Regions from separate parts of the Homo sapiens genome. Here all the other regions are linked to region 1. Evidence: fine-mapped expression QTL. A gene starts in region 1. Each other region holds a variant in brackets. All regions are shown on one strand. Distances are from middle to middle. Region 1 holds the start of TTC12 (tetratricopeptide repeat domain 12). Region 2 overlaps TTC12 (tetratricopeptide repeat domain 12). Region 3 overlaps NCAM1 (neural cell adhesion molecule 1). Region 4 has its middle 7.5 kb from the start of ANKK1.

What was found. PIP is the estimated chance that this variant, and not a neighbour inherited with it, causes the effect.
Region 2: its variant is fine-mapped to the expression of TTC12 in whole blood (TOPMed, PIP above 0.99).
Region 3: its variant is fine-mapped to the expression of TTC12 in tibial artery (GTEx, PIP above 0.99).
Region 4: its variant is fine-mapped to the expression of TTC12 in whole blood (TOPMed, PIP 0.97).

The regions. Positions count from the first base shown.
Region 1 is chr11:113,310,862-113,318,968 of GRCh38, reverse strand. It overlaps TTC12 (tetratricopeptide repeat domain 12), which reads right to left and starts at 4,386. Exons shown (of 22, transcript NM_017868.4): 1 at 4,351-4,386; 2 at 2,654-2,726. The coding sequence starts at 2,711. TTC12-DT (TTC12 divergent transcript) reads left to right here and starts at 4,513. Exons shown (of 5, transcript NR_199709.1): 1 at 4,513-4,639. RefSeq lists silencers at 4,016-4,115, 4,008-4,302, 4,326-4,575.
Region 2 is chr11:113,363,839-113,371,945 of GRCh38, reverse strand. TTC12 (tetratricopeptide repeat domain 12) reads right to left here. Exons shown (of 22, transcript NM_017868.4): 20 at 8,019-8,107; 21 at 6,886-7,111; 22 at 5,559-5,721. The coding sequence ends at 5,646. Among named protein-coding and RNA genes, the nearest start is that of ANKK1, 20 kb to the left of the region's middle. The variant C/T (reference allele first, on the strand shown) is at 3,327.
Region 3 is chr11:113,237,539-113,245,645 of GRCh38, reverse strand. All of the region lies in intron 14 of NCAM1 (neural cell adhesion molecule 1), which reads right to left. Among named protein-coding and RNA genes, the nearest start is that of NCAM1-AS1, 32 kb to the left of the region's middle. The variant A/G (reference allele first, on the strand shown) is at 3,640.
Region 4 is chr11:113,376,239-113,384,345 of GRCh38, reverse strand. No RefSeq gene overlaps it. Among named protein-coding and RNA genes, the nearest start is that of ANKK1, 7.5 kb to the left of the region's middle. The variant G/A (reference allele first, on the strand shown) is at 3,325.

The DNA of each region.
Region 1 (8,107 bases):
TGGGGGAAGAGTCATTACATAAATTAGATGGAATTGATTTACTGCTCTCGGTAAACACAAATTCCTTACCATGGTTTCCAAGGTCTTTCCTAATCTGGCCCCTCCATATTCAGATGGGACTCTTCTCTCCTTGATCTCTTCTTTCCAGACATTTGGGGCTTTTTATTCTTTTAGTTCCTCAAAAGCACCACACTCTTTCTTCACTCTTAGCTTTCCTACCTCCTTACTTCCCACCCAGGACACTCCCCTGTCATTTTCCCAGTGACCAACTCCGACTCACTCTTCACATTTTGCCTAAATCTCACTTCTTCTGGAAAACTTTATTTAATTTCTGTTATGGACTAAATTGCATCCCCCCCAAAAATTCACATGTTGAAGCTATAACTCCTGGTATGACTGTATTTGTAGATAGGGCCTTTAAAGAAGTAACTAATCATTGCCCTAATCCAATATGACTAGTGTCCTTGTAAGAAGAGAAACACCAAATATATGCACGTACAGAGAGATGACCATGTGAGGGCACAGCGGGAAGGTGCCCATCTGCAAGCCAAGGAGAGAGGCCTCAGAAGAAACCAAACCTGCTCACACCCTGGTCTTAGATTTCTAAACTCCAGAACTCTAAGAAAATAAAGTTTTGTCATTTAAGCCAGCCAGTCTATTTTGTTACAGCAGCCCTAGCCGACTAATACAACCTCCCAAAGCTGGGTTAGATCCCTACACTTTGTAATTCTCTGTGTCTCATATTGCATACTTGAAATTACTGTTTAATATCTGTTTTCTCCACTGGACTATTAATACCATGAAAAGAATAATTCTTTGACTGTATTCTCTAGGCCTTACCAACACTCAACACATAGCAAGAGCCCAAGAAGTAAATGTACAGAATCTATACACATGTGGCTACATAAATTTAAATTAATTGAAACAAGCCGCATTTCAAACCTGGGCTGCAGCCACAAACACACAGAACCCTAAGCACTAGACCACAGGGTGGAGTTATAAGCCATATTTCAAATGCTCAATAATCATGTGGCTAGTTGCTACCATAGTGGACAGTGAGGATTATGGAACATTTTCATCATCACAGAAAGCTCTATTGGACAGCACTGGTATACATGATACCTGAATGAACTTTGAGTATGCATAAGTTAGCCAGGTTAAAAAAAAAGATGAAGAGGCAGTGGGAATGGCAAAGATCCAGTGCAGAGTGTGAAACACAGAGTATGTGTGGCGAAGTATCAGCAGTTTATTGCTGCTCAAGCGTGAGGTAGGGAGATATGAGAGAGGTAAGGACAAGGTCATGGGAGGACTTAAGTCCTGATGAGAGCTTGGGATTTATTATGACTGCAAAAGGAATCCAAGCAGAGAAGTGTCTGGGTCAGATTTGCATTTTAGATACATTACTCTGTGGGAAGTATAAGCCTGGAGACAGGAAAAACAATCAGGGGGTTGTTGACATAGTCTGGGTGAGAAGAACCAGAACAAAGGGAGGGCTGGAGAGGATGGCTCTCCAACCAAACTAGATGGCTAATTGGATGCAGGGTTATGAGTTGGGAGGAGTCCCAGATGACCTGTAAATTTCTGGATGGTGGTGTCACCAACTGAGACCAGGATGAAGGTGAGGGTAGGAGAAGCAGGTTTTATTTGGGAGGGGGAGGGCAAAGGGGAGGGAAAGAGATGATGCCTCAATTTTGGACACATTTAAGTTTATTTGTGGGATACAGTAGGTATGACAGTACCATAGAGGCAGAGGCTCAGAAAAGAAGGCTAAGTGTCCATGTAGATGTGGGGGTCATGAACAAACAGGTGGCAGGTAAAGCTACATGTTTAGACCAGCTGAAGAGAAAGGTGGCAGTGGGCCAAGGCCAGAGCTCCATGGAACAGCATTCAGGGATAAGCATTATTCATGTATCATTTACGATGTCACCCAAGCTAGCTTTAAAACCACTTTATTCCTTGAACCCATACAATCTGCTACAAGCAGCAATTTCAGCATATTGCCTGTATTTACTATGTAAGGTCTGTTTGCTTGTTGGTTTGTTTGTTTCTATACTCAAGCAAGCTCCCTGAACAGGGACTGACAGGTTTGGAAATTCCTGAATGTGATCTGTGGGATCAGAGTACATTTCTTTGAGATCCAACCTGCCTGAACTTGGGAAAGGACTTTCTTGTCTAGAGAGAGAGAAGGGAATGATGATCATAAACCATCCATGTAATTTGATGGATCCTAAAGGAAAGCCATTTGATTTTGCCTCTGCAGCTCTAAAACAGAAATGGCTCTACTCTAAAACGGGAGGAATCTCACACTGATCAATGAGGTTCTTGACCCTTGAAGGGAACAGCTGGGTTCATTGTCAATGGGGAAACAGCAGCTGGTTTTGACTGGATTCCACATAGAAGGATACAAAATATGGAAGAAAACCGTCAGCCTGAATTCCTATCAGAATGTTAACAGTTTCTCTGATACCAATTAACAGCCAGAAAATACAGCCCTGAGGCTATAACTTGTTTCTCAATACCCTTCTCTTTAATTTCAATTACATTTTTTTCCTAAGAGTTATAAACCTGTCAAGCCACCCAGGAACTTAGAGCAATCATTTATCTACTCCACTTCTCTAAAGCAGAAATTAATTTATGATTTACTAGTACTTACAGATTTCATCCACATTTTTAAGAAATTTCTGCAAATCTTTCTCTTTATCAGCATCCATTGTGAACCGGAATCCCTAAGGGATGCAGCATAATGGTGAAATTAATAATAATAAAGCACTAAACAGAACGGTCAGGCTTATTAGCCTTCTAAAACTAAGAGCCAAGTGATTATTTTTATGACAGTTTTGTTTATGTCAATGAATAACAGCAGGGTGATCCCTTTCATTCCAACTGCTGTTTTAGGCCAAGAGGCACTCATTTACGTGCGGCAATGCTTCCAGAAAGCTTCCAGCCCTCCTTCCAGTGCAGAAAACGCTCTGCAAATAGTTCTTCCAAAGCCAACATCAACCCCGGCGATTTAGGGACCTGGCATGGAGATGAGAAGAGAGCAGATGACAGGTTGCCAAGGATAGAGAAATACACTAACACCTGACTTTGATCATGACAGGCTGGTCTAGTCAGAAGCTTAAATGTGGATGTGTGACAGGTAACAAACTTGGGGCAATTTGCATCTAAATGTCCATACTTGTTTAAAATCTGCCTTTGGCTTGTTTCTGAAGAGTGAAGAAAGGGTACAAATTGACTGAAGGGATTAGAACATAATGTTACCATGCTCACCAGCGTCTCTTCTGCTCTAGGTACCTCAGATATTATTTTACAGTTGTTTTTGTGCGAGAAGGCCCCGTGGTGTACCCAGCAGTACTCAGTGGTTCATCCACAGATCATAAAAATCATCGGGAAGATTGTTAAATATACAGCTTCCTCAGCCGTAGCCCGAGATTTCAAGTCAGTAAACCCGGGACATTGCCCAGACACGAATATAGATTTTAAACACTTTCCAGGTGATTCTCATTTATGGCCAGGTTTCATAGTAGTGTAACACGCTTCTAACACGTAATCTGCCACGAACAAACTACGAGTGATTTAATCGAGTCTCAGTGTCCTCATCTCCACCAGTTACAAGCTGTGTGATTCTGGCTAAATTCACAACCTCTCCGAGCCTCAGAGTCCTCACCCATACTATGGGAACAGTAAGAGAGAAACTACGAGGACTATTCTGGGGACTGATGTAAAGCACCAGGCACGCGACGAGTCCTCACCGTGAAGCACCCTTACCTATATAAAACAGGGGGTGGGGTTGCGGCTTAACTGAATAATCGCTAGGGTTTCTTCCAGGTCAAATCTTTTCAACTCCCACGGAACAGAGGCCTAGTCCAGTGAATTAATCTGCCCAACGGTATGAAGGTTAGAAGGCAGGCGCGCGGGTGCATGGACAGGAGACAACCTCTGTCTCCCAGGGCATGGATCTCAGGGTCCTCACTGCCTGGCCAGTGCCCCCCTACGCTAGGGTGAGAGGGCCAGAGCCAGGTGATGGCGAAGCGGCGCCGCGCTCAGTGCTTCACTCGGTAGGGCTGCGGCAGCGGGGACCTGTGCCCGAGCCCCGCGCGGAGCCTGCCCCAGACGCGCGCTGCCCGCCGGGCGCAAAGAGGCCAGGCCGCACGCACTGTTGCCCAGCAACCGCTCCCAGGCGTCCGCAAGTCCCGGGCCCTCCATGCAGGTCCCAGACCGCAGCCGTCCCAGACCGCAGCCAAGACCTTCCCATGCTCTGGGGCCCAAAGCAGCGTCCTCTGCTCGGCTCTGAAGGCCAGTGCAGGACCAGCTCCCAGGGGGGATTCCGGGGTACCCCGCGGCACCGACCTGATTCGCCCAGCTTTGGACAGGAAATGGCGCAGTGACCTGCCTGGGCTGGGGCGGGGCCAGGAGCCAGGGGCCCGGGGCGGGACCAAGGGCGGGGCCAGGAGCCAGGGCCCGGGGCGGGACCAAGGACGGGGTCAAAAGCCAGGAGGCGGGACAGGGGGCGGGCATGGACACGCGATCAGATTCGCTACCGCAGAGCTCTAGCTCCGGAGCGCGCCAAGTTGAAGGCCAAAGTCGAGGTTGGGATGCCCGATGCCTGGCGCGGGGAGACGGAGGAAGCAAAGTGCTGGTAACTAAAGCAGCGCCTGCTGCTCGCCTTTTTTCTACTGAAGAAGGGTTGTCTCACTCCCGTTAGCTTAATATCCTTGCCCAAAATGTAAAGTCTCCAGTGTACTTGTGAATCCGGTTTTGTTCATTGATAAATGTGTGAGTTAGAAGACTCACACATTTATCCTTAGGAAAGTTATTTGAGTAACCTTTTTAATCCTCAGTTTTCTCACCTGTGAAATGGAGAAATGGCACTTTCTCATAAGGTTTATGGTTAAAGTGCTGTAACCGCCCAATAGGTTCACCTTGCTCACTGCCTAAACAGAGTCGATTTATCAAGACAGGGGAATTGCAATAGAGAAAGAGTAATTCACACAAAGCTGGCTGTGAGGGAGACCGGAGTTTTATTATTACTCAAATCAGTCTCCCTAGCTTTCAGGGATCAGAGTTTTTAAGGATAATTTGGTGGGTAGGGGTCAGTGAGTCGGGAGTGCTGATTGGTAGGCTAGGAGATGAACTCACAGGGAGTCAAAGCTGTCCTCTTGTGCTGAGTCAGTTGCCAGGTGGGGGTCATAAGACCAGATGAGCCAGTTTATTCATCTGGGTGGTGCCAGCTGATCCATCGAGTGCAGTGTCTGTGAAATATCTTAAGCACTGATCTTAGGTTTTACAATAGTTGATGTTATCCCCAGGAGCAATTTGAGGTTTAGAATCTTGCAGCCTCTAGCTGCATGACTCCTAAACCATAATTTCTAATTTTGTGGCTAATTTGTTAGTCCTGAAAAGGCAGTCTAGTTCCTGGGCAAGAAGGGGGTTTGTTTGGGAAAGGGCTGGTATTGTCTTTGTTTCAAAGCTACACTATAAACTAAGTTCCCCCCAAAGTTAGTTTGGCCTATGCCTAGGAATGAACAAAGACAGCTTGGAGATGAGAAGCAAGATGGAGTCGGTTAGGTCAGATCCCTTTCACCATCTCAGTTATAATTTTGCAATGGTGGTTTCAGTGCCTGGTACCTAGTCAGTAGGAACAGGTGGCACGTGACATCCGGGGAATCATAGGGTTTAGAACAGAATGAGCTAATAGGCACATTCATTCATGCCCCAAATACATGCACACAGCCCTAAAGAAATTTCAGTCTGTTTTTCTAAACAAAATCTCAGAGTATTATGTGCAGGGTTACCAATGGAAAAAAAGCAGGTTTAGGGGAAACTTGAGCTTAAGTTCACGGTCAGAAACACCCGGAACTTCTTGGCAAATGAGTGCTTTATGGAAACCTGTTTGGCAGGGAACAAGGAGCCCCTAGAGATGGAATTCGCCAGAGGGGAGAGGGATCCAGGCATGGCCAGCTAGCTCTAGTGTTGATTCCAAGTACAGCCTGTTGACTCTCTTGTGGCCTAGGCCCCATAGGATGCATGCCTGTGTCCTGTAGAGAACAGAAGAGCTGTTTGGCTGAAGTCTCTATGATGCATTGGTACACATACCATCCTGCTTGGGTACCCCTCTAATGCAGTATAACACAAAGGGGCCACGGATGTTCTGCTCCTCTTGGCAGCTGAATGGGTACAGCATCAGCAGAGTGAGTCTTTTGGCTCATCAACTGCAGCAGGAGACCTGGGGATCCCAGCAGGACATGGTCACAGTGGCTGTCCCAAGGGAATGAGGTGCCTCAGGAGAAGTAGCAGACAGTGTAGGTGCCTGGCAGGAGCAAGGACGTTGATGAGCACAGGCTAGGCACACCATAGGGATCCTCAGAAAGATATAGGGTACTTCACAGTGACCTTCCAGCCTGTGGGAATTGATGGAGACAAGAACCAGTGATGTTTTGGTTATCACCATTAGTATCACCCCATTTTCCTCTTAGGCCTGTGAGGCCTTGAATACATGAAGGCTATATGCCTATGGTCCCCAACCTCAGGGTGTTTCTTATCACATTGAGGCCAATAGTTCCAAATCACTTACTTCCTATCCTACTACTCTTTTCACTAAACTCCTTTCCTAGGTTCCAGAGGTATCTGCCCACAACTGACTGTACCACCTAACCATTCACTCACACATTTGTTCAGCTAGTGTGAGTGGCCTGTAGTGTGCTAGATGCAGCGGAAGGCCCCTGGGGTGCACTTGACAAATAGTCATCACATGCTAAGTGGTTAAGAGCTGGGGCTCTGGAGCCATTTTGCTGGGTTCAAATCTCACATCTCCACCTATTAGCATTCATTAAAATGTCTTGAAGCACCTACTATGCACCTTCTATTGTGCTATGTACTGGGGATCATATTCCTCCTTTTTTATTACTAACACTACTGAAACCTTCCTTACAAACTTTATAAAATTAATCAGGGAAGCAGGGAAGGGGAGAAATAAAATAAGCCCAGCTTGCAGCACATTCAGCATGAACCATGAGGTCAGCTTGTTCTCTGGCCTGCTTCTTCATAATTATTTAGTGTCTGTTATCTCAGAATCACGTAGACCCAGTTACAATATTATAGTTCCCCTTAACTGCTCTATAGTTAACAACTTGAACATAAAACATTGTGTTTTCCACTTGGAGTATTCTTTCAGGTCCTGCATACCAGTGAAATTACTAATGTCAGCTGTTCTGAAGGACCCATTGACACCAGCTGGTCTGAGGGCCCCACTATGACCCTGTCCTGCTGCCCCCCCAGGTCTCCTACTGTAGCTGACCAGAAGTTGACTCACCAAAGAATGCAGTTCCCAAATCCTGATACTTTCATCCCCCTTATCCCACCAATGGACAACCCCAGTTATCTAGCCCCTCACCTCCATGATCTCCTTAAAAACCCCAGCCCAGCACTCCACTGGGAGATAGATTTGAGGGACTCCTCCTCACTGCAGCTCTCCTCCCCCTCACTTGGTGCCCTGTGATCTGATTCTTTCTGTGCTGCACATCCTTGTATCTCAATGTAACTAGTCTCTTATACACAGTAGGCATACAGTCTGTTGGTTCTATGCATCTGCTACTGCTACTGCTAGATGTGTGACCTTAAGCAAGTTACTTAATCCCTGTGGGCCTTAGTTTCATCATCTGTAAAACTGGGTTGTTAAATGATTCTCTATCCCATAGGGTTTCTGTGAGAGGTACATGAGTTAATACAGGCCATGTGCTTAGAACAATGCCTGGAGCATTATCAATACCTAGTAAGTATTATTAACTATTACTACTACTATGATTCGTATGTGTTAGACCAGGTCCTCTAAACCTTGATTGTGTGTAGAAATTGCCTGGTGATCTTGTTTAAACAGGATAGGGGCTGAGATCTGCAGTGACATCCCTTTATGGACTGTGGCCACACTGAGTAGAAAAGTGCAGACACTTCATTAAATGCTGGGATGCAGCAGAGCACCAGTGGTACCTAGTCACCAGACTCAAGGAGCTTATCACCCAAGGGGAATAAGGGTCAATAAACAAAATCATCATGTAAATTCTCATTGTGATAAGTGCCATAAGAAGTAAAGGGTGAAAAGCAAAGGTAG
Region 2 (8,107 bases), 53 kb before region 1:
GAGTGCCCATCTCCTCAGGGCTTCCATGTGCCAAGTACGGTGATGAGAGCTTTATAGAAATCATCTCATTTAATCCCCACAACAAACCTAAGAAGTGGGTATCATATCTCCCCTATTGCCTTTTACAGACAAGGCAATCGAGGGGCTAAGCCACTCACTAAGGTTATGAAACTTAAAACTTAAAGCGAGGTTATGAAATTTAAAGCAAGGTGGAGGAGGACTTTGAGCCTGCACTCCCACCACTGAGCTTCCTGCCTCTCCGGGTCTTGTTGGAGTCCCTACCCCACTCTGGACCATTAGTTCAGAGGGTTCTTGAACAAAGGTAAGAACATTGAAGATACTTCACTTGGCCTTTCTGAGTCTCAGATTCCTTATTTATAAAATAAGGGGGCATGGACTAGCCATTTTGGAGCAATTAATTGTATTTAGACAATGAATCAGATGGACTCCAACAAAGCAGATACAGTCAGCCCTCTGTACCCTCGGGTTCCAAATTTGCAGATTCAACCAACTGCAGATCAAAAATATTTGGGGAAAAAACAATAAAAATAACACTCCAACAATAAAAAATAATACAAATTTTAAGAAATACAGTATATCCACTATTTACATAGAATTTACATTGTGTTAGGTATTATAAGCAATCTAGAGATGATTTAAAGTATATGAGAATGTATGTAGGTTATATGCAAATATGATGCATTTCATATAGGGGACCTGAGCATCCCAGGGCTTTGGTATCTGTGGTATCAATCCCTGGTGGATACAAAGGGATGACTGTAGAGGATTAGATGATCCCTGAATACTTTTCAGCTTGGACATTCTAGGAGCCTTTTCTTCAGCCTCTTGTTCCAATAATTCTCACTATCTTGCTGTGCCTTTGATCTAGTGTAAATCACCTTGCACGTTAACTCACCTATTTTAATGTGCAAATTCATCTCCCAGCAGCAGCGAGATGAATTCCGTGTGTGTGGGGGTGTGTGTATGTGTGTGCTTGTTGCCCGAGGGGAGTTGAGGGATCTAAATGAGCATCCAGAGCTGCTGAAGATAAGAAGCCCAAACATAAAGTTGGGGACAGATGTGACAATGGAGTGATGCTCAGGCTGAGCTGAATCAGCACATCTGGCAGGCAGCCACCCTCATTTAAAGCAGTTCCTTCCAACCCGCTGGTGACAGGAGCCCTGCTCCAGAACTGGGGAGATCTGAGGCTGGGGTGGCTGGCAGAGGTAATCGGCAGCCCACTGTTCCCTGCTTTGCCAGCACCCTAAGGCTCCCTCCTACCTAAGCCAGGGCTGAGCCTCAGAGCAGCCAAGAAAGCCTGATCCAGCCCCAGGGCAAAATCAGACCACAGGGCAGAATGTCTCCAGGGAGAACTCCTTCATCATTTTGCCTTTTTGAAATTGAGATCAAATTAGGAGTCTTATTAAAAGGAAATAAGTCATCCAGCAGCTTCAGGTCACAGAAGCCCAGTGCTTGGCTGGCATGTGGCCACCCACAGGGCCGGGAGCTGCTGGAGGAGGTGGTGGGCAACTGGATGTCCCGCTGGGCTAGCACTCCTCTTTCTAGGGCATCAGGGAGGGTAGGGGGATGCAGCTCTGGGGCTTTAGGAGAAAAGAACTAATGACATCCTGATGAATATATGATTGGAGCTACAGTCATTGCAATCAACAGGTTTTCCTGATTATAAACTGAGGACAAACTGCAAGTAACAGAGGAGTATCTGTTTGCAAAGAGGATTTTAGAGCATTGATCCTAGCACCTTCCACTTCACACTGGGTCCTGTTGATGCCCATGCACCCCTGGCCCCAGGCCCTGACAAGGAGCGCTGCTACCCTATCCCTGAGCCCTGAGTTGCTCTGAACCCCATCCCACCCAAGACCAGTGCTCTCAGGCCCTGCTGCCATGGGGTCATGTAAGAAGGCAGGCTTCTGGCTGGCAGCTGGCTCTTGGGGGATCTTCATGTTTGCCACCAGTCACAGGAGAGAGGGAAAGGTAAACAGAGCCAAATACATGCTTGCCTTCAGTGAGACGGAGGACCAAGGAAGATAAGCAGATCCGTGAGGGTGGGAGGGGGCAGATAATGGGCTCATGGTCATTTCTGTTCTCAAAAAGAGTCGCCATTAAGTAAATACTTTCTATCTGTCAGTCACCTATGCTAGGTACTTCATGTATATTATATCCAAACCACAGAAGGAGAGGTAGGTGTTGATGCTCCCATTTTATAGAGAGGAAACTGGGGCTCTGAGAAATGTGGTGACTTTTCTGCAGGTCACACTTAGTAAGGAGAGGAATGTTTTACATGCAGGAAGAGTTAAGAACACAGCTTGGGGTCAAATTCTGACTCCCCTGCTTCCTGGCTATGTGATCCTGGGTGGGAAAGTACTATTCTGTTTTTATCTTATTTACCTGTAAAGTGGAGATAATACCCACCTCACAGTCGTTATGAGGCTTATGTTAGGGCAGGATCTTCAAGTTTTGATAGGGTGCCTAGTGCAGAGCAAAGGCACAATGCACGGGGGGTGGGGGGGCGGGCATGGTGGCTCGCATCTGTAATCCCAGCACTTTGGGAGGCTGAGGCAGGTGGATCACTTGAGGTCAGGAGTTCGAGACCAGCCTGGTCAACATGGTGAAACACCATATTTCATAAAAATATGAAAATTTGGGATACGGACGCATGCCTGTAATCCCAGCTATGGGAAGCTGAGACATGAGAATCACTTGAACCTGGGAGGCAGAGGTTGCAGTGAGCTGAGATCACACCACTGCACTCCAGCCTGGCCGATAAAGTGAGGCTCTGTTTCAAAACAAACAAACAAACAAACAAACAATGCACAGGCAGGCTTTATTCTTTCTCTCTGCGTGTCTGCAGGATGCCAGTCTATGAGGACCAAAAGCTCATTCCCTGGGAAAGGGAGTCAGCTCTAAATGGGTTTTCTTCACCTCTGATTATTCTCTCCTGTAACGGAACCCTTGGAGAGCCTCTATTTTCAAGTTATTTAGAAAATGAGACCTCTTACTTAAAAAAAGTCATGTGGTATTAAATGTCTTCTTGTCCTCAGAATATTAGGTTAGTGCAAAAGAAATTGCAGTTTTTGTCATTACTTTTAATGGCAAAAACTGCAATTAGTTTTGCACCAACCTAATACTTCTTAGTCATACTTCCCCTCAGTTCTCCAAGCCAAGAAGCTCTTATTTGAACCTATCCTTAAAAAAGTGTTTACAATAGCAGCCCGTGACCTGTTGCAGCATCTCAGCCCCTTCCTATTGTTTCCTCTCAACTCTGAACCTCAGTCCCACCTTGCGGCGCACTGGAACCACCGTCCTCA[C/T]GTCATGTATGAAGACAGTGAGCAGCTCTGGACTGTCTGTTACCTGCCACCTCTGCTGTGGCTTCAGGATGGTGATGGAGTTCCATCCCGGCCACATCCTCTTTAGGATGGAAAATCCCAGCTCCTCTGCTTGTTGAACCAGAAGACTCTGATTACCTGGAACAAGCCGTGTCTCCAAGGGTGGTGTCGGGGCTCCTGGCAAGTGGAGATGAGGCCTTCTGAAAGATGGCGCTGGTATTTTCCATGCTGCCTGGAAGGTCTGCATGGTAGCATGTGTTAGGGGTAACAAGTTTGGGGCGGTGGCGGGGGTGGATCCACACTGGAGAGGGAGAATACTAGCATGTGAAACATCTCTTCCCACCTGCGAGGAGACAGAGCTTCAGGTGCAGCAGACTCTCTTCCAAATTGGAGATGACTGCTCTCGGCAGGCACTCTGGAACAATAAACATAATAACGTAATTTGACATTCCCCACTCTTTGGGGAAGAGAATACACCTATCATAGCCATTTTCAAGAGCCAAGAAGGAGGGCAGCCATAGCAGGGGAAGGCGGGGCCTGAACTTCAAAGGAGACAGGGCTGGTGGTTATGAACACAAACAGCCTTTCCGTTTTCAAAGCTCCACGGAATTCTGTGAAAACAGCAACTTTTGCACCCTCTAATTTTCTTCTTTGTGCTCTGATTAGCATCGAGCCGTTCTCCCTTTGCAATTCAGTAGCCTCTTGAAGGGTGTTTGTTTGCATGATAGGACTGATGGGCAGGTCCTGGCTAGTGGCCTGTCACTTGCTTGCCACCCAGGGCGCCACCACAGAGTGCCCCAGTGAGCTCCCTCCAGCCATGCGCAGTACATCAATCTGAATGAGGGGCTCAGGCCATTGATTTTCTTCCACCGCCCACCCCCGTCACCAAATGCCAATTATTTATCTCCGTTTCAGAAACGAAGTTCTTAATTTAAGCCAACAGCTGCCTTACCTGTGAAGAACACTTTCTTTGGGTGTGTTGAATAACATCTCCCTGGAGGAGGAGGATTTCCTTTCCTACATGCTTCAGAGAATGGCCAGCTTGATTCCTTAAAGGACATGAGCTTCATCCTTTCCCAGACCCTTCAAACTTAACCCAAATGACGTCATAGTTGACACCCTCAATCTCAAGATAGAGTCTGGTAATCTCTTATATTTGCGTAGTACTTTATAATTCCCAAAGTGCCTTCACCTCCAAAACTTCATTTAACCTTTACAACAATGGAGGAGGTAGGTTGGGCAGGTATTAGTGTTTCCAGAAGCAGTAGCCAAAGCTCAGAGAGGTTAAGCAACTTGCCCAAAGTCACATGGCTGGCAGGGCAGGTAGCAGGGTACGACCAAAAGTCTTTGGAACTTTGGTCTGGGACTCCTGACATTCACTGTACCATGAAGACCCTGCCTCCTACTCTAAAATGATTCTGTGATTGTAAGGAGCCAGAGATAATGCCACTTATTGGACTTCTCACTTAGGGACTTGCAGTCCACAGGTGACCCTGGTTTAGAGTGACCCTGGGGCAACTGGAAGGGAGCGTTGCCTCTGGGGATGGGGTGAGAGTACAAGGTGGGTTAGGGAAATCAACACATTTGCATCAGTCAGGGTTCACTGTAGAAAGAGAAGCCTGTGCTTTGGCACCTTTAGCAGAGAACAATCTAACCCATGGAACAGGGTGCCTATAGCACCACCAGATGGGCTGGAGGAGGGTGCCAGAGGGACCCCCAGGAATGATTCCCAGAATGATTCACGCAGAGTTCTCCTAACAGGGGAGACACCACCTACCACTCACCCCACTGAATTTAACGGCACATGCAGTGGCTGCAGGCCAGGAGTCAGCTGCAGGCCACCAATGATGCCAATGCAACTCTCTCTCAGCACTCCACAGCTGGAAAAACGGAGCTGAAATGCTGCTACCAACAAATCTGATGTTTCTAGCATATTGCCAGCAGAAAATAGCAAAAGGGGTAGGAAGTGGCATTAGATTGGCCACTAGTTCCCATCTAGAATCGTTGCTACAAGGGAGTCTGGGCAATGTGGCTTTTTGTGAGATGGTTTCTAGCTTCTACAGAACAGGAAAGAACATTCAAAGGAGGGTACAATGGAAGTCGAGTAAGCCAGTGCACAGAGCCCACCACAGCAGCCAGCCTAATGCCCACTCTCTTGTTACCCGTGAAAACCTGAAATGCAAACACTCTAAAAATGAGTACTTGATTCTGAAGTGGATACATCAAAGGTCTTTATTAGCATAGGAACAACACACGGTGTGCATCTGTGTGTTCCCCAAATGCACACAAACCCTGTCTCTCTCAAGAATCACTGATGTATTTCATCGTAGAGTTGAGAATTTCTAGGCCATGAAGCTTTCTCAGTTGAGCAGCAAATCTGTCACAATCAAAACAAACAACCCAGGGCATAAGTGCCACGGTTCAGGCTTCTGGAGCCCAGAGCCAACACCCTCTCAGATGGAAGCTGGCTGAGAACGTCAGTCCTATCACTCTGGGTGGAAACAGGAAGTGGCTGTGGCATTGGGGTACCCTAAAGATCACAGGGGTAAGTAAGACCCTCAGGGAGGCCCACAAAGCACTGAAAACACTCGCTGCAGGTGGCAGGTGTGTCAGGCTGATCAGACAGGACCTTGCTCTCGAGAACTCCCCCATAGGTTGCCACTTTGAAGTCATCCTAGCTAATGTGCTTTCTTTCTATAGAAGAAAGATTTTAACTATTCCTTCCATTTGAACAACCAGACAGAACTTGAAAGGACCTTAGATATTATCAAGGCCAACCCCCTCAATCTACAGAGGAGGAATTAAAGGCATGTGGATGTAAGGGAAGGAGCCTCTCTCACTCAGCTCCCGGGGTTACCCTTGCTCTATGCCAGGGCTCCTTTGCTCAGCCACAGGTGGACACCTCCCAAAAGCACGTGCAATGAGATGCGTCTGCACATCAGAAGAGGAGCAGAGCAGAGTGGAGGTCTGAGCTAACAGAGAAGCCATGGGCACAGTTACAGCCCACATCTCTTGCCCTCGCTCACTGGGGACCTCGGCATGCTGTTCTGCGTCTCTCCTTCTCCACTGTTTTCTCCTGCATGAACATGTGACCCTTGCTGGCCGTTCCTCCATTTGTTTAGGCTGAGGCAAAGAACATGAAGTGGGGGGTCTGTTTCTGGAAAAGTGGAGAAGAGAGAAAAGAGGGAAGAGAAGGGGAGGTGGAGTGGGAGGGAGGGGAAGAAGGAGGATAAAGAGACAGGGAGAGGGATGCAAAACAGTGGAGAATGGAATGGAGAGAAGGCAACGGCAGCAAGTGGGAGCAGCACGTCCCTGTCAGACAAGCCGATTCCCTCTCTGGTTGGAGACCGAGAGCTCCCCAGTTTCCTCTAGAAAGGCTTTCTTCAGAGAAGCAGCTACTGGGCTTAACCTAGGTCTGCACAGAAAGCATGAGGGCTTCCCACACTGTTCTGTGTGGCATGCAGTCCCAGCCAAAACTCAGCACCTCAGCTCAGCTGCTCTTTCTGCAATAGGTCAGCCTGGCTCCGTGTCCACAGCATACCTGGGCTCAGCTGTGCACAGCTTCCCCAGAGCAATGCCTGCGTTCACCTGCACGGCCGTCTTCTGTGTGTCACTGCCTGCAAGCTTTAACAAGACCTGCAAAAGGTCCGTCTTTAGCAGGGAAGACGCAACGTTGGGCACCTCCATGCAGTTACCAAGGCAGAGGGCAGCGTTGCCCACCAGAACCTCATCCTCCGAGCTGAGCAGCTTCATCATAACGCTCAACTCTGCAGGGAAAGAAGAGAACAAGCAACAGCTCCTTTTAATCCCAAAATAGGAGGCTGGCAACAGGACATGAGGGGTGCAGGGAGATGTCAGCGGACACCGAGCTTCCCCAGTAACTCTGCAGCAGAACTTGTTCACTTACTCATCAGCAAACATTCACTGAATGCATATGAACCTCCTCAACTCCTTGCTGAACCTCTGAAGTATCTCCGCTTCCTAGAACAGTGCCCAGCACAACACAGTTGTTAGATGAATGAATGCTGTGTGTCAGACAGGTCTGTCTTCTTGAAAGCCTATTCTTAACCTCTCACTGCGCCAGGGTGAGAGGTCTTATCTGACAGCCCCCAGGTGGAGGCAATGTGCCAGCAACCTACACCTGCAGGGTATGCAACAGGATCCAGGAGAAAGGCTTGCCGCTTCCATGGTGGAGCCTCCTTCAGTTCACCTTCTGTGCATTCCAGGGAGTTGGTAAGAAGAACATTAGCAGGCTGCCTCTCCTGGGAAGCCTGCTGTGAATAACTACAGCCGGTTTAAGTTACTGGACTAAACCTAGGCTCAGACTCTGATATTTCCCTTGTTCACTAAACGTTGACGGTGTTTCCCCCTCTCCTTCTGTGAAGGCAGAGAACTGAACTTGGTGAGAGGAGGGAGTTTCCTAGCTTTGACCCTGTTATCTTTGAGCCATCTGTCAGCTGGGTCTCCAGCCTGGGCATTCTACCTGTGTGCATCCAAAAGGTTAATTAAATGCTTTCAGATCTGGATGTGAAACATCTTCTGTAAACATTGCTGAAGTCTGGGAGAGGTTAACAGCATTGCTGCTAAGTTCCTCCTCGACCACAGTTCCCTTTGCAGCTTCAAGGGTGGATGAACCTCTGGGACAAGGGCTCCCTTAAGGAAATCATCACTTACTTTTATCCAGTCTTATTACTTCTTCCCGAGCTTCATGATAACTATTCGTGCAGATAGCTAGTATCTTTATAGCATAACGTGATGCAGTC
Region 3 (8,107 bases), 73 kb after region 1:
TTCCTGAGACCTCGGTGAGCCTCCCTGAAGTCAAGACCCATATAAAGGAAGAGGCCAGTGCAGACTAGGGAATGGGTTTCCTTCTGATGGTTGAGACAATGGCTGTGTTGACACTAAACAGCAGAAACTGTACCTTTGGCCCAACGTGCTGAGAGTTTGACATTAAGCAAATGTTTGGGCCATTTGTGGTTAAAGTTTTTTGTTTTGAAACGGTCTCGTTTCATCACCCAGGCTGCAGTGCAGTGGCATGAAGATAGCTCACTCCAGCCTTGACCTCCCGGGCTCAAGCAATCTTTCTGCCTCAGCCTCCTGAATGGCTGGGACTGCAGGCGTCTGCTACTATACCCAGCTAATTTTTCTATTTTTTGTAGAGATGGGGGTTTCGCCCTGTTGGCCCCGCTGGGCTCAAGTGATCCTTCCACCTCAGCCTCCCAAAGTGCTGGGATTATAGGCTTGAGCCACGGCACCCAACCTGTTGTGGTTAAAGTTATATCTTTAGAATCGTGGTTGCACTGATAAGTCATAAATTTGAGATTTACAATGAAAAAAAAAAAACACTTTTCTTAAGCATTCCTTTTGGTCCTATGTTGTGACTGAGTGATCTCGACTTGTTAAAAGGTATTTTGGGTTTCTGACCTTAAATTTAAGAGGCCAGGGAAAGTTTTGGCCATTGCCAATTGAGGCTGAGGGAGAAGGGCAAAGAAGGGAGATGAAGACACCTTTCTGTGTAAAGAACACCGCTGGTTAAAAATAACCTGAGAGAAATGCTTTAACCAGGCTACCTCTTCCCTTGCCACCGTGAGCTGACAGAATGTGTGCTTCTTTCTTATTGTCTGGCATTACACAGATTCAGGCACCTTCCTACCAAAGGGGCCTTGCAGGGATTATATACAACTAAGCAATTGCTCCTTTGGTTTTATTTAGAATACCTTTATTCCCTCATAATTATAAATGGGTCCACACACACACACACACACACACACACACACACGCACACACACAGAAGCAAAACTGGGAGATATGTATTTTCAACCCCACTGATGGATTGATGATCGATGGATATTCACATGCTGATAGCTACTCTGCTATTAGTTCCACTGCAATTCACATGTGCCACATTTCATCTTACTAGTGAGAAATATGTTCATGCTAAACTCAGGCTGCTGCCCAATTGTGAGCATCTTTCCTTTATCTCAGTATCCACTGGGACCTACAATTTGGGTCAGTAGTCAAGTGGTTCAAAATAAAATGACTCAAACTTTCTTCCCTTTGGATGTCACAACTAAGCATTTTGTCTGTGGGCAGAAATGTCTGATGTTTAAAAATTAAAGACATGTCAGGGGAGAGACACCTAATTCCTTCTTCAGGCAAAATCTGGAACCAAGATTGTGTTTCACTAACAGAGAAGACCAACCTACAGTGAGCCACCTGAAATATGACACAGTTGTACAAATACATTATGTAGCTTTCTCCTACTGTGCCTGGACACACATTGCACCAGGTTGAAAAAGGACAGGAGTGACACTGTAGAATAAGAAAAGGGGCTGTCAGCTGCATTCCTTTTCCAAATGTAAAAAAAAACCCCTCATAATCTGAATTAAACCCATGCGAGCACAGCCTGTTGTCACCGGCTCTGCTCTGCTGACAAAATGAAACCTCAAAAGCATCAGGAATTAAAATTCATCGCAGCACACACACGGAGGGAACACCAAGAAAGCAGACCCTTAGCTGTGTTCTGCAGTAGAAAAAAAAGAACCATTTCATGCAACACACAGAACCAGGAAACTCTTTTCTTCTCTGTTCAATTATGTATTGGAAAGCTTGGCCCGGGGAGCTGGAGTTATACTTTGCATACCTGCTTTCTGCCTTCTTGTTCTGCTTGATGGGATGTATGCCATTTTTTTTCTGTGCAAGCAGAAATATTATAAAATCTAAAACTCCCACACAGCTTTGATGCTTGAACACTATGAACATGCACGCATACTCATATGGATTCTTCAGGAGATTCAGGTCCTCCACACACATCTTACTTCATTAGAGCATTATGAAGACCAGCTTGGAACATGTTACAGCAGTGATTCTGTGCAATGTTTTCTACGATGAAAAAAGAGGATACAATCTGGCTCTTGACTCTATTGTCAAGAGATAAATTCCAGCACTTTCATCTGGACTCTCAACCCAAGGGGAGCCTGGATTAGGCTTTTTCTGCCCATCATTTTTCTAGCACTGAGGCGGGAGCCTGAAAGGAGACAGCAGGAAGGAGCTCTCTCCTTCCCCTGTGCTCTGCGTACGCGGAGACAAAGCCGGGCATGCTGTCAGGAAGCAGCGGCTCCTTCCTTCTCGGCATCACCCTCTCCCTTTCCTCAAGCAGCCATTTTCTCCTATTCCTTCCCTCGCTCTCAGTCTTTTTGCTACTGCTAAATTAACACGCGCATGAGCGTGTGTATTTCAGAAGGAGGGACAGCAAAGCGAAAGCCGGGAAGGAGATGCTGTTCTTTTGTGTCCTCAGGGTTTGCCTAATCCTTGGCTATTTTTAACTAGAGAGTCGATTTGGAAAAGCCTCCTCATGCACGGAGTATTCTTCCAATAATCAACCCCGTTCTTTTGCTGATGCTTGGTTTGCTCTCTTGGCCAAGCAGACGGCATGCTTAGGAAACCACACCAGGCTAGGAGCCTTCATGCATTCACAACTGTTGCTTTTAATAAAAGGGAAAACAACAGGCAGCGCTGTAATCTAGAAGTCGGCTCTACAACAAGCGATCAGAGGTCTGGCCGAGAGCAACTCAGCCCTGTACTCACTAGCTGGTTCTGTGGTTGCAAGGGCAGGAAGAGGCCAAGTTGCTATGGAAACACGACAGACAGAAAAGGCAAAGAAAGGTGAAGGAGAGAATGGAGATAAATTAAACTCATAGCTATATATGTATACATACATGGGTGAGTATATATTATACATATGTAGGCATCATTATAAAGATGGTGAAGGAGGTATTCTCTCTCTTCTCTATCAATATTAATATACATATTATTTATTATTTTGAGATGGAGTCTTGCTCTGTCACTCAGGCTAGAGTGCAATGGTGCGATCTTGTCTCATTACAACCTCCATCTCCTGGGTTCAAACAATTCTCCTGCCTCAGCCTCCCAAGTAACTGGGATTACAGGCACATGCCACCACGCCTGGCTAATTTTTGTATTTTTAGTAGAGACAAGGTTGCCCAGACCGGTCTTGAACTCCTGGCCTCAAGCAATCCACCCGCCTGGCCCTCTCAAAGTGCTGGGATTACAGGCCTGAGCCACCATGCTGGGCCTTAATATACATATTTAAAAGACTCTTAATATACATATTTAAAAGAGATGATCAGAGATTTTGCTGACAAATGACTTTCATGCAGCAAGAGATAACATAACTCTCATTTATTCTTACTATTAATTCCAGCTGCTAAATGCTGAGCAGTATGTTTTGTGTTCTTCACATTTAATCTTTAATTTTCACAAACACTGAAAAGGTAAGTGGAATCCATCCTTCACCTTAGAGGTAAGAAATCTGAGACTTGGGGAGGCTTAGCGACTTATCCTAGGTTATGGAGCTTCAGGCGGAAGAAGCGGAGCTGTGATTTGAACCCAGGTCTGTCTACTTCC[A/G]AAGCCTGAACTCCGTCTGCTACAGGACAGTGCCTGGAAAAGCACTGCATGGGATGGTGGGCATGCTTCTGAGTCAACAGATGGTGACAGAGGGCTTCTGAGCTTGAGGCTTGAGTCACCTCCTGAGTCTGAGTCCAAACCACAGGGGCTTCTGATATATCAAGGAGAATAAAGCCAGCCAGGCGGCACCACCCTGCCTGCCCATTTGCTGCTGTCTGCCACTCTGGGCAGATGCTGGCATTACATCCTGTGTCTTACTGAGCTGTGGTCTTACTTTGCTATTCCTCCCTGGAAAGCTAGGTTCAAAACTCCAAACAGTGGCAGGCCTGGAGCCCCTTCTACTCCTGCACATTCAGGCACACAAAAGGACAGGATAGCAACATTAATTAGATCAGAAATGAGCAAGGCTTAGCCAGGATGATGAAATCTGAGAGCGACCAGCTGACATTACTGCTGGCTTGGTGGTAATGATCCCATGTGGGTAAAGCAGAGCATGATAAACATGAAAATGTTTGTGATTTTCTTTAGGGTGGCGGGACGTGGGTGACTACTCATCCTATTTTACAGAGGAGATAAACAAGGCTCACTTGTGAAGGGTTAAACGATTTGCCTAAGCGCCTACTGCCAGGCACATCTGCCAGACACTGCCAGACACTGTTTATTTTCCCACAAATATTTACAAGAAAAGTATGCATTTATGGATAAAGCGAAAGCTACAGGCCTCCCTATCTAATTTCAATGTCTGTATCCAACTGTGCCAATTAAAATGAAGGGTAAAAACAAAACACTCCAACACATTTTCTATGACCCTGCAGAGGAGACATTTTTCTTGGTCAATTCCTTTGGCTTCTCCAAATACGAGCTTTGATCCAGCCCACTCAGAATCCTGAGGACAGGGCTGGCCCCAGGGCGGCAGCCTTGGGGATCCTGCCTGCAGGGTTTTCTATCCAGAACAATGCTTTTCCCTCGCCTCTCCTTCAGGGAAGGCTGCCCCTCATGGATCTGAGAAGCCCTATGCCTGTTTCTCTTCTCAACTGCTCCTCTAAAACCCGACGCTGCTTTCCACCAACTGAGTTGAATTATCACCTGGTGAAGGAGATAACATTAGGCAAAACAAACTGTGGCTGGTGGAAAGTGACCTGCAGAGAGATGGATGAAGAAAATGATACTCACTATCTGGTGGAGACAATGGAACAGGGGTAGACGAGCTAGCAGATGCCGCTGAAGAAAGAAAAATGAAGGTGGGGAAAAAAGATCATTGAGGCACACAGATACTGAATGAAAAAAAAATGGAAGCAACAACCCTGGGGCATCAGTATGAGGAGCTGAAGTGAGTTAAAGTGGGAAGAACAACACCGTGTGTGAACAGCTGGCCAGGGCACTAGCGAGGAGCAGGGCTCTCTCTAACGTCAAACCTTGAGACTGTGCACCTGCCAAACCCTGCAGTTCAGGTAAAGTCTGGGCCAGGAACAGCTGCACAAGCCTCAAACCTTGACTGAAAACAAATATCCAGTTCAGCAGGACCAGCTGTCTCCATAGGACGAGAGGTATAGGAGGAAAAGGAATCTGGACCTCAGTTTAAGGTGAACCAGTGAAGGAGAAAATAGACATTGGCTTTTCATGTTACACATCTATATATGTGTTTCTATATAGGTATATATTTCCACATATGACTTTATTTATAGCAAAACCTATATGCCTCACTCATTTCAACATCTGAATGAATGAGACAGAAATGGCTCTCCTACCTAATGTGTACTAGTGTATGAAGTTCATGATCCTGTATCATACAGATGATGCTGCAACCACTGCTGCCTTCCAAAACTCCCCTACAGAATGTGGTTATTTGGAGGCTGCTACGTAAGAGCCATGCAAATAATGTTCAGGATTATTCTCACTCCTCCAGGGAATAGAAATGATGAAGAGACTGGGACTGAAATTCTAGCCATTCTTCTGTGTAGAGGATGGTTAGTTGTGCATCTGAGATACTGGGACACTGAATGGATCTTTGGTTTTTCATTGGCAAATATTTGGAAGTAGTCCCATCAGCAGTCACAAAACAAAGTCTCCTTCGAGAGCTAGATGAAAATTTGGAAAAACCTCAGTGTATCTCCGCCACTGCCTTAATATCTAATACTCATGGTTTTGTCTTCCTTTACCTTCCACATGAGGGCATCTCATTAAACCATGAGTACAGTGTCACTGGAATCAAAGCAACAAAGAATCATAACTCATCATTATTGGATGGTCTGGTTAATTCAGGTCTCCTTCCCTCTCTTTTCTTTGTTTAGCTTGAATTGTTTGCATAGTTATACTTGCAATGTGCCACCTGGGGGACAACATATGAAAACAAAAATCTCAAGATGCCTCTTTTAAAAAGTAGAGACTCAGGAGTATGGCGTGAACCCGGGAGGCGGAGCTTGCAGTGAGCCGAGATCCCGCCACTGCACTCCAGCCTGGGCGACAGAGCGAGACTCCGTCTCAAAAAAAAAAAAAAAAAAAAAAAAGTAGAGACTCATTCATAATCTCTATATTCAAAAAGAAATAATCTATTTTGCTTCATGGTACAGAAGCAAATTAAGAGGTAATGTTTGGGCAATGAAATTATGAAGGTGGGTAGCTCAGTCATGGAGGGGAAGATTCCTAGCTAGTTGTAAGGAGTCTGACACAAGCAGCCCGTCTCAAGGCAAACAGAGGTTTTGAGCTTTCCTCCTGAGTGTCTTGATGGCATGCAGACATTTGGCTTAAAAAATACATGAAATAGGCACATTCTCACAGGTTAGAGTTTTATTTGTTGGTCTGGGGTCACAGCTTCCTCATTACCTTCATGCACATTCATGAACTACACACAAAGGAACCTCCAAACAGGTAAGCCATGCTTACTAACTGGCAGCTTGAAAACAAGAGTCCATTAAGTGTTTGTGGCTTTTACTAGCTCCCCCTGCTCATCCCTGCTCTGATATATCCATGTCCCTAAACATGGAAAGGTCTATTAAAGAACCAAGAAAGCAACCCCATTATTGAGACATCTCAACGAACTTCAAGCGATGAGTCAGTGCCAAATGCGCTGGTCTCACCTGACACCTGGCAGCCCAGGAGTCCGGCAGCAACACCTGCCTGTGCAGCACACTGGCCTCTGCTGACTCTGTGCCTTCTCTTCCTTGGGGCTTGGGGTATAACCAGAGCACAACTCCAGTGGTAGGAGATCCTGCTGTGCATCTGCATCCCAACAGTATTACAGGACAGGGGTGCAGTGTCAGTGGTGCCGTAAGCTGGCATCAGAAACCAATGCCACTGGTTCTTGGGCTCAGTGCAAGCACACAGCTAAACTGGTGGTTGGTTCTGTCTACCTAAGTTCAGACAATCTTTGTGTCTTCCAAGAAATGAGAGTAAGAATTCAGAGAAGGTCCTTCCTAAGGCTCGTCCTCAGTTCCTAGCAGCAAAAGGGTGGGTTTGTCATAGCAGTTGTAACTGCTGGCAGCATCCTCCCAATGATATCTGTTTTCAGGATGGGTCTAGGGGCAGCAGGATACTCCGTGGGCTAAGTCCTCACTTCAGCAACTCTGGGAAGGTTATCAGGGCACAAAGAAAGACCATAATAAGTTATCTTTGGTGATAATATGATGTTCCCATATGTTCACCGCCTCATCCTGCTAAAATTCTTGCAAAAGGCGTGCTCAACTCTAAGAATATGCCATGGTTCTACTTATCTAAAAGAAGTTTGCCTTTTGATTCTTCAGACCTTAACTTTATTAAATGATTGAGAAAAACTGACTTTCTGTACCACTAACAATGCCTGTTGTTGTACCATTCATGACCTACTTGGAATGCAGAGATGACACCATCCTTTTCCAAAGGGCTTCTTGGAGTCGTGGTTACTTATCCATTTTGATACTATCAGACAATAAACAACAAGGTCTGGAGACCTCTTTTTTGTAGTTAAAAATCTAAATTTTAATTTAAAATTAAAATTTCATTAAAAATTTCATTTTTAACATTGACTTTAAAAATATAGCTTCTGAGATATATATCTATATCTATCTATCTATCTATATATCTATATATATATCTATATATCTATATCTATATATCTATATATATCTATATATCTATATCTATATATCTATATATATCTATATATCTATATATATGGTCTCACCTTTGCAAGAACTGAGCTGGCAATGAATGAAAACCACTGCGGCCTTTGAAGTCCAAGACCCAGTTACTCTGATTCAGTACTCAAACTCCAGTTACTGGTTAGAAACTCAGAGGGGGGCCTCATCCCAGCCTTCCTCTCTTTAATGTAACTAAGCCAGCATTCATTTACTGATCAAATCCAGACCAGAGGAAACCTGGAGACTCAGTTGAACCACAAGTTAAAGATCAGGGGAAGATCCAGAAGGAAGGTTCCCTCATGCCCAGAGTGGCTCCTCTCGAACTTGCTTAGGGCATAGCTGCAGGCCCAGAG
Region 4 (8,107 bases), 65 kb before region 1:
GTTATTATGATTATCATCCATAAAATATATCTAAATACTAGGTATATTTTTAAAGGTTACATTCCTTAGGTATATACTAGGAATACTCCTAGGCAAAAAATATGAACCAGCTGATACTTCACACCTGAAAAATTAACTCAAAATGAATCATGGACTTAAATATTAAATGTAAACTTATAAAAATTTTAGGAAAAAAAAAGGAGAAAATATTCTGGACCTAGGATTAGATGAAAAGTTCTTAGGCCGAATCCCACAGGCACAATCCATAAAAGGGAAAATTGATAAACTGAACCTCATCAAAATGAAAAACTCTCACTCAGTGAAAGACCTGGTGAAGGTGAAGAGAAGAGTGCAGATGGGGAGAAAATGTTTGTAAAGCACATATTTGACAAAGTGCTGGTTCATAGAGTATATAAGGAGGTCTTCAAACTCAATGCTAAAAAAGCATCAAATTAGAAAATGGGAAAATACATTTCTCTGAAGAGAATATACAGATGACAAATAAGTTCTTGAAAAAATGTTTAATATCATGAGCCACTAAGCAATGCAAGTAAGATATCACTAACTACCTATCAGAATGGCTAAAAATAAAACTGAAAAGATAGTGGCAACGCCAAATGCTGATGAGGATGTAGAGTAATGGGATCACTCATACGCTGGTGGAAATGTAAAATGGTATGGCAATTCTAGAAAAGAATTTGGCCATTTCTTATAAGACTAAACATATGATTACCATACAACCCAGCAATTGCACTCTTGGGAATCTATCCCAGAGAAATGAAAACAGTGTTCACACAAAAATCTGTATATGAATGCTCATTGCAGCTTTATTTGCAATAGCTAAAATCTGGAAACCGCTCAGATGTCCTTCAACCAATGAATGGCTAAACACACCATAGTGCTGTATTATGGAATAGGACTCAGCAACTACTGATATACACAGCCACTTGGATGAGGCCCCAGAGAATTCTATTGAGTGAACAAAGCCAATCATAAAAGGTTACATACTGTATGACTCCATTTATATTGCATTCTTAAAATGACAAAATTATAGAGATGGAGAACAGATTAGTGGTTGTCAGAGGTGAGATTGGGGGAGAGGCAGGTGGGTGTAGCTGTAAAAGGTTAGTGCAAAGGAACCTTGTGATGAAACTATTCTGTATCTTAACTGTGGTGGTGGCCACATGAATCAATGCATGTGACAAAATTCCATCAAATTAAATGCACACACAGATGCACACACACACACAAATGAGTGCATGTAAAACTGACGGCACCTGTGTAAGGACTATGGATTGTATCACTGATTTCCTGGTTGTAATGTTGTGCTATAGTGACATAAGATGTTACCTTTGGGGGAAACTGGGTGAGGGTATCTCTGCATAAGTTCTTAAAATTGTGTGCTTATCTGTAATTATCTCCAAGCAGAACATTTAAAAAATACAAATAAAGCCCCCTTCTTCTCTTCTTCCTCCTCCTCCTTTTCCTCCTCCTCCTTTTCCTCCTCCTACTTCTCCTTCCCCCTTCTATTTCTCGTTCTTGTCCTTATTACTAGGTAATGTTATATTCTTGGAAGGAAAATATTCCCATAATAGGAGAAAGGCAGTAATCTAACATTTACCACAGAATGCCTTAAGGAACACAGCTGGCCCCCTGTGGACACGTAGAAACCCCAAGGAGAAAGAGAAAGGCCACTGTGTTAAATGTCTGAGGCTGGAGACGATGGAGAGAGGGAGCGAACTAGTTCCTTCTAAGACTCAATTTCTGGAGTTGGCAGAGTATAGATTTTCCTTCCTAATAAGGAAACCAGTCTCTCTTTTGAAGGGCTTTTTGATGAAAAACTACCTTGAGTGTCAAGAAGCCAAAAATGGAAGCCCTGAGTTTCATGAACCATGGTTCTCATTGTCAAAATCATGGCCACAGGTTCTTTATGGTCTTGGGTGATTGTGATTCTGGGCTGGGTCCATATAAAAATAACAAACAGATGTCTCAAGCATCCTGCCATCTCAAGCAGTTTAGAAGAAATGCTTGGCTGTGGCCAGGGCTTCAGAGAAACATCATTCCAACATGGGGCCTTAACAGCCTCAGAGCATGCCCAAGATGTCATGGTCAATACCTTCTCTGGCAGTGTCCAAGAGACTAGGAATGCTAAACTTAACCCTTTTTAATTTAACAAAGAGTCAGTCCAGGGAGATTGAGTCCCTATTACCAGGACTCTAAAGGGAAAATGCCCTCCTTATGTCAACCTTGGTGATCTGGCCATAAATCTATCCTTCTGCTCTCCTCTGGGCCCTTCCTGGATAGGGGGGAGTGAAGGAAAGCTAGGACTAGGGAAGGACTTAAACACTAAAAGGTGGTTTTCTTGGGAACTCTGAAAGCTTGCTGGCTCTGCAGGTAAAGAAAGGGACTTCTAAAATGTGACTAGTGTCATGCTTCTTATAACTTCTTTTTTTTTTTTCTATTTTCCTTACTATTCATGTAGAGTAAGTTTCCTTCCTTCCTTCCTTCCTTCCTTCCTTCCTTCCTTCCTTCTTTCCTTCCTTTCCTTCCTCCCTCCCTCCTTCCCTCCCTCCCTTCCTTCCTCCTTTTCTCTTTTAGGGATGAAGAGTTAGCCAGACCACTTTGGGTACACTAAAAGAAACCAAGAAAAGATTTTGCATGGGAATTATTTAAGTGCCTTGTGGATTCTGGATATTAGACTTTTGCTGGATGCCTAGTTTGCAAATATTTTCTCTTATTCCAAGGTTGTCTGTTTACTCTGTTGATAGTTTCTTTTGCTATGCAAAAGCACTTCAGTTTGATTGGGTCCCACTTGTCAACTTTTGGTTTTTTTTGCAATTGTTTTTGTTTTGTTGGGGGACTTAGTCATAAAGTCTCTGCCAAGGCCAATGTCCAGAATGGTATTTTCCTAGGTTTTCTATGATATTTATAGTTTTAGGTCTTACATTTAAATCTTTAATCCATTTTAAGTTAATTTTTATATATTGAGATAGGTAGGGGTCCAGTTTCATTCTCCTACATATGGATAGCTAGTTATCCCATTTATTGAATAGGGAGTCCTTTCCCCATTGCTTGTGATTGTTGACTGTCAAAGATCAGATGGTTGTTAGGTGTGCAGCTTTATTTTGGGTTTGCTATCCTTTTCCATTGGTCTATGTGACTGTTTTTGTGCTAGTACCATGCTGTTTTGGTTACTGCAGGCTTGTAGTATAGTCGGAAGTCAGGTAGTACGATGCCTTCAAATAACTCCATTAAAAAGTGGGCAAAGGAGGCCGGCATGGTGGCTCACGCCTGTAATTCCAGTACTTTGGGAGGCTAAGGCGG[G/A]TGGATCATGAGGTCAGGAGTTCAAGACCAGCCTGGCCAACATAATGAAACCCTGTCTCTCCTAAAAATACAAAAATTAGCTGTGCATAGTGGTGCGCACCTGTAGTCCCAGCTACTTGGGAGGCTGAGGCAGGAGAATTGCTTGAACCTGGCAGATGGAGGTTGCAGTGAGCCGAGATTGTACCACTGCACTCCAGCTTGGGCAACAGAGCGAGAGTTCGTCTCAAAAAAAAAAAAAAAAAAGTGGGCAAAGGTCAACAAACATATGAAAAAATGCTCAACATCACTCAGGGAAATGCAAATCAAACCCATACCACCTTACTCCTGCAAGAATGGCCATAATCAAAAACCAAAAAACAGTAGATGTTGGTGTGGATGCAGTGATCAGGTGTGGATGCAGGAACACTTCTACACTGCTGGTGGGAATGTAAACTATATGGCCACTATGGAAAACAGTGTGGAGATTCCTTAAAGAACTAAAAGTAGAACTACCATTTGATCAAGCAATCCCACTACTAGGTATCTACCCAGAGGAAAAGAAGTCATTATATGAAAAAGATACTTGCACACACATTTACAGCAGTACAATTCTCAATTGCAAAATTGTGGAACCAACCAAAATGCCTATCAATCAACTAGTGGAAAAGGAAACTGTGAGATATACATATATATGATGGAATACTACTCAGCCATAAAAAGGAATGAATTAACAGCATTTTCATGGACCTGGATGAGATTGGAGACTACTATTCTAAGTGAAGTATCTCAGTAATGGAAAACTAAATGTTGTTTGTTATCACTGATATGTGGGAGCTAAGCTATGAGGACACAAAGGCATAAGAACCATACCATGGACTTTGGGGACTTGGGGGGAAGGGTGGGAGGAGGACAAGGGATAAGAGATTACAAATAGGGGGCAGTATATACTGCTCAGGTGATGGGTGCACCAAAATCTCACAAATCACTACCAAAGAACTTACTTATGTAACCAAATGCTACCTGTACCCCAATAACCTATGGAAACATAAAATAAAAAATAAAAAGTGGGCAAAGGACATGAACAGAACATCTCAAAAGAGGACATACCTGCGGCCAACACATATATGAAAAAGTGCTCAACATCAGTAATCATTAGAGAAATGCAAATCAAAATCACAATGAGTTACTGTTTTGCAGCAACCATTTTAATAATGGCTATTATTTAAAAAAAAAACAAAAAATAACAAATGCTGGTGAGGCTGTGGAGAAAAGGGAACACTTATACACTGTTTGTGGTAGTGCAAATTAGTTCAGTCACTGTGAAAGCAAGCTGAATATTTCCCAAAAAACTTAGAATTAACATTCAACCCAGCAATCCTATTACTAGGCATAAAATAAATCTTGCTACCAAAAAGACATGTGCATTCATATGTTCATCACAGCACTGTTCACAATGGCAAAGACATGGAATCAACCTAGGAGCCCATCAATGGTGGATTGGATAAAGAAAATGTGGTACATATACACCATGGACTACTATGCAGCCATAAAAAAGAATGAAATCATGTCCTTTGCAACAACACAGATGCAGCTGGAGGCCATTATCCTAAGTGGTGAATTAACACAGAAACAGAAAACCAAATACCACATGTTCTCACTTGTAAGTGGAAGCCAAACCTTAGGTATACATAGACAGAAAGATGGGAATAACAGACACTGGGAACTACTGGGGGTGGAGAAGGGAGGGGGCAAGGGTTGAAAAACTACCTGTCGGGTGCTATGCTTGTTTGCTTGCTCCCTGGGTGATAGGATCATTCATACCCCAAACCTCAGCATCACACAATATACCCATGCAACAAACCTGCACATGCACCCACTGAATCTAAAATACAAGTTGAAAAAGAAGAAAATATTTTGTTTGTTTGTTTCACTATGTGGTATAGGTGGTTGTGAAGAATACAATTCTTAAAAGTCAAAGAAACTTAAATAGACCAATAGAATATGGGCTCCTGGACAGGAATCTTGTTCTCTGCTCTATCCTCAGTACTTGGCCATGTAGGAGGGAGCTCATTTAACATTTGATGAATGAATGAATGAATGAATGAATGAATGAATGAATGAATGAATGGATGAATGAACAGGAAGGTGAATCTCCCGGGGTGAAGGTTGATTTCTAGCCTTTTTTCAGAGACTTCTCTAGTCTGAGTAGGTTCTGAGTCATTTTGTAGCAGACCAGGCTTTTCCTTTACAGTTTTCTCCAACCTGCCTCCCCAGGGTCAGGCCACTAAAACCCCTAGGCAGATTCTCCTGGGAGAGATCCTTAGAGATTCCCATCATTGCTACCTTCCCCCGGTCGGTTTCCTTATGATCATTTACGATGCTTCATATTTTTATAAGTATGGTTTTCCAAGCAAAGGGCTGTTCTGATGAATGAGAGAACAAATTGATGGCGAGGCTTCAGGGGCCAAAGCAATAATCAGATGGTCATTTAGCCAGCCTTTGCTTCAAACCAGACACTCCATCCCAAGTGCTCAACTTGCATTATCTCATTTAATTTTCTTGACAACCCTCTGAGTTTGGTACTATTATTATTTCCATTTTTGCAGGTTTAGAGGAGCCTTGGGTCACGCAGTTGGCAATTCAGTGGCCCAGGACTTAAACCTGGCTTGCTTCCTGCCAAGGTACATTGCTCTTAACATATGGCCAGAATAGCCTTGATCAAATCAAATACAGGACTCTGAGCCTGAGGCTTATCCATTGCTGGCGGTGGGGTGGGGTGTCACGTGCTCCCCAGGCCAGGCCTGAACAATAGGACCTCCTGGGGGGAGAAAAATCAGCTGTGGAAATTTAGAGACACTCCCTGTTCTCCTTCAACCTGAAAGGAAGAGAAAAGAGAGGGTGGGTGTGCTGGTACTGAAGAGGTGGAGCTTTGACTAATATGCTCATCAGGACTTTGCCTGCAGCAAAAAGATATCTTTGGAAGCTGTGCCTGTGGAAAGGTCAGTATTAGCTCAATCAAATTTGGCTTATGGAGAAACTTCGGGATTACTTAGTTGCAGTGGAAATGTGTCTTTGTCTCTACAGTTTTGGTTGGAAAGAAAGCAATGTGTCCCTGGGACTGTCAAAACGCTTTTTAACCAGTAACAGGAAAACTATGTATGTGCTGGTAAATTTGCATTGAATATGGAAACTTGGCACATAGAGTGTCAAGCAGATGGAGTTTCAGACTGGGAAAAGAATGCCTTTCAGATTCCATCCAGCTCTGAGCTATCCTCTCTCTCCTGGGGGAATTACTCAGGATGATCTAGAAGAGAAAGGAACCGATAGTTGGCCCCGGGAGCACGAATCAGGAGCAATTGGGAGTGGAGAAGGCAAGTGACTGAAGATGAGAGCTGAAGCAATGCCCCTTTCCAGGTATACAGTGGTGGCAGGCACCTGGTGCTAGCCACAGGTGCAAGGGCTGGCTTTTCATAGAAACAAAGACTGGTCTAGACACAAGCCTACAGGTATTTCCAGATGATGGCATCAAGTGATGTGAGAACAGATAACCAAAGAAGGCCTGCTAAGAGTCTTTTTGCCTTGAAATTCAAAGGAGCAGAGGACCTTATCTACTTGGGTAGGTGAATGAGAGTGTGTTTTGGTGGCAGAGAGTGGATAAAGGAATTTGTGGGGATGTCTTCGGTCAGCTCAGATAAGGAAAGTGAGGGTGAGAATCACAGCAAATTTTCCTGCCCCAGCCTTTGATATAGTCTCAGTTTCATTCATTTCTCCTCATCCTCTCTCCCTACCCACAACCCACACTCGTATTTGCCATGTCTTTCTTCCAATGTAGGAAAGGGACAGCTCAGACATCACCTCTTCCAGGAAGATTTCTACCCCAGTGCCTCATGCTGGGCCAGATGTCCTAGCTTTGTATCACAAACATTCACTAAGCCCAAGGGTATGTGACCCTCTAGTGTGTTGTCCTTTGGCTCCCTTTTGACTGGGAGTTCCTCGAGAGAAGAGAAGGTCCTATCCCTCTGTGTGTGCCCAGCACTTATCCCAATGCCTGGTACATAGTGGAAACTAGTAAACAGAAGCTAGTGTTTACTGTAGTATTTTAGCTTAAACCATTATCACCAGTAGGGGCTGGGGAGCTGTGGAGAGTCTAAAGTTAGAGTAACCAGGCTTCACCCCAGGCTGGCCCTAGTGAAAGTCCCCTAATGCCTTCTCCTGCTAAATTTCATCATTCAGGCAACAAATATTTATTGAGCACCTATTATGTATCAGCACTTTTCTAGGTATTTGGACACATCAGGGATCAGAACCAACAAAAATTACGAAGTTCACATTCTAGTGGGAAAAGGGAGCAGAATGCAAACAATAAATCATATATCATGAGAAGCAAGTTAAACAGTATGTCAGAATAATATGTATCTATTAAGGTATTATGTTGGGGAAAGAAAGGAGATGGGGGAAATAGGGCAGGAGCACTTAACATTTTAACTGATACCTTAAGGTGTCAGCCTAAAAAAAAAAAAGACATCAGAGAAATATATCTCCTAATTTAATGATCTTATTTGTGAGTAAGCAAAAGGATTATAATCTAGGATGCACAGCTATAGCAAGCAACAGATGCACCCGAAGAGGGGAGGGTGAGGGGAAGCTTTTATTGGCAAAAGGAGAAGTTCACATAAGCTGCTTAGAAACAGAGTTCATTGGCTCTGGAGACTCAAAGCCAGAATTGGCGTCAGTTCATTGGTGGAGATGCTGTTACTAGGCAAGTAGTCTTTTGAGAGTATCTTTTCTGAATTGCTGTAGTCCT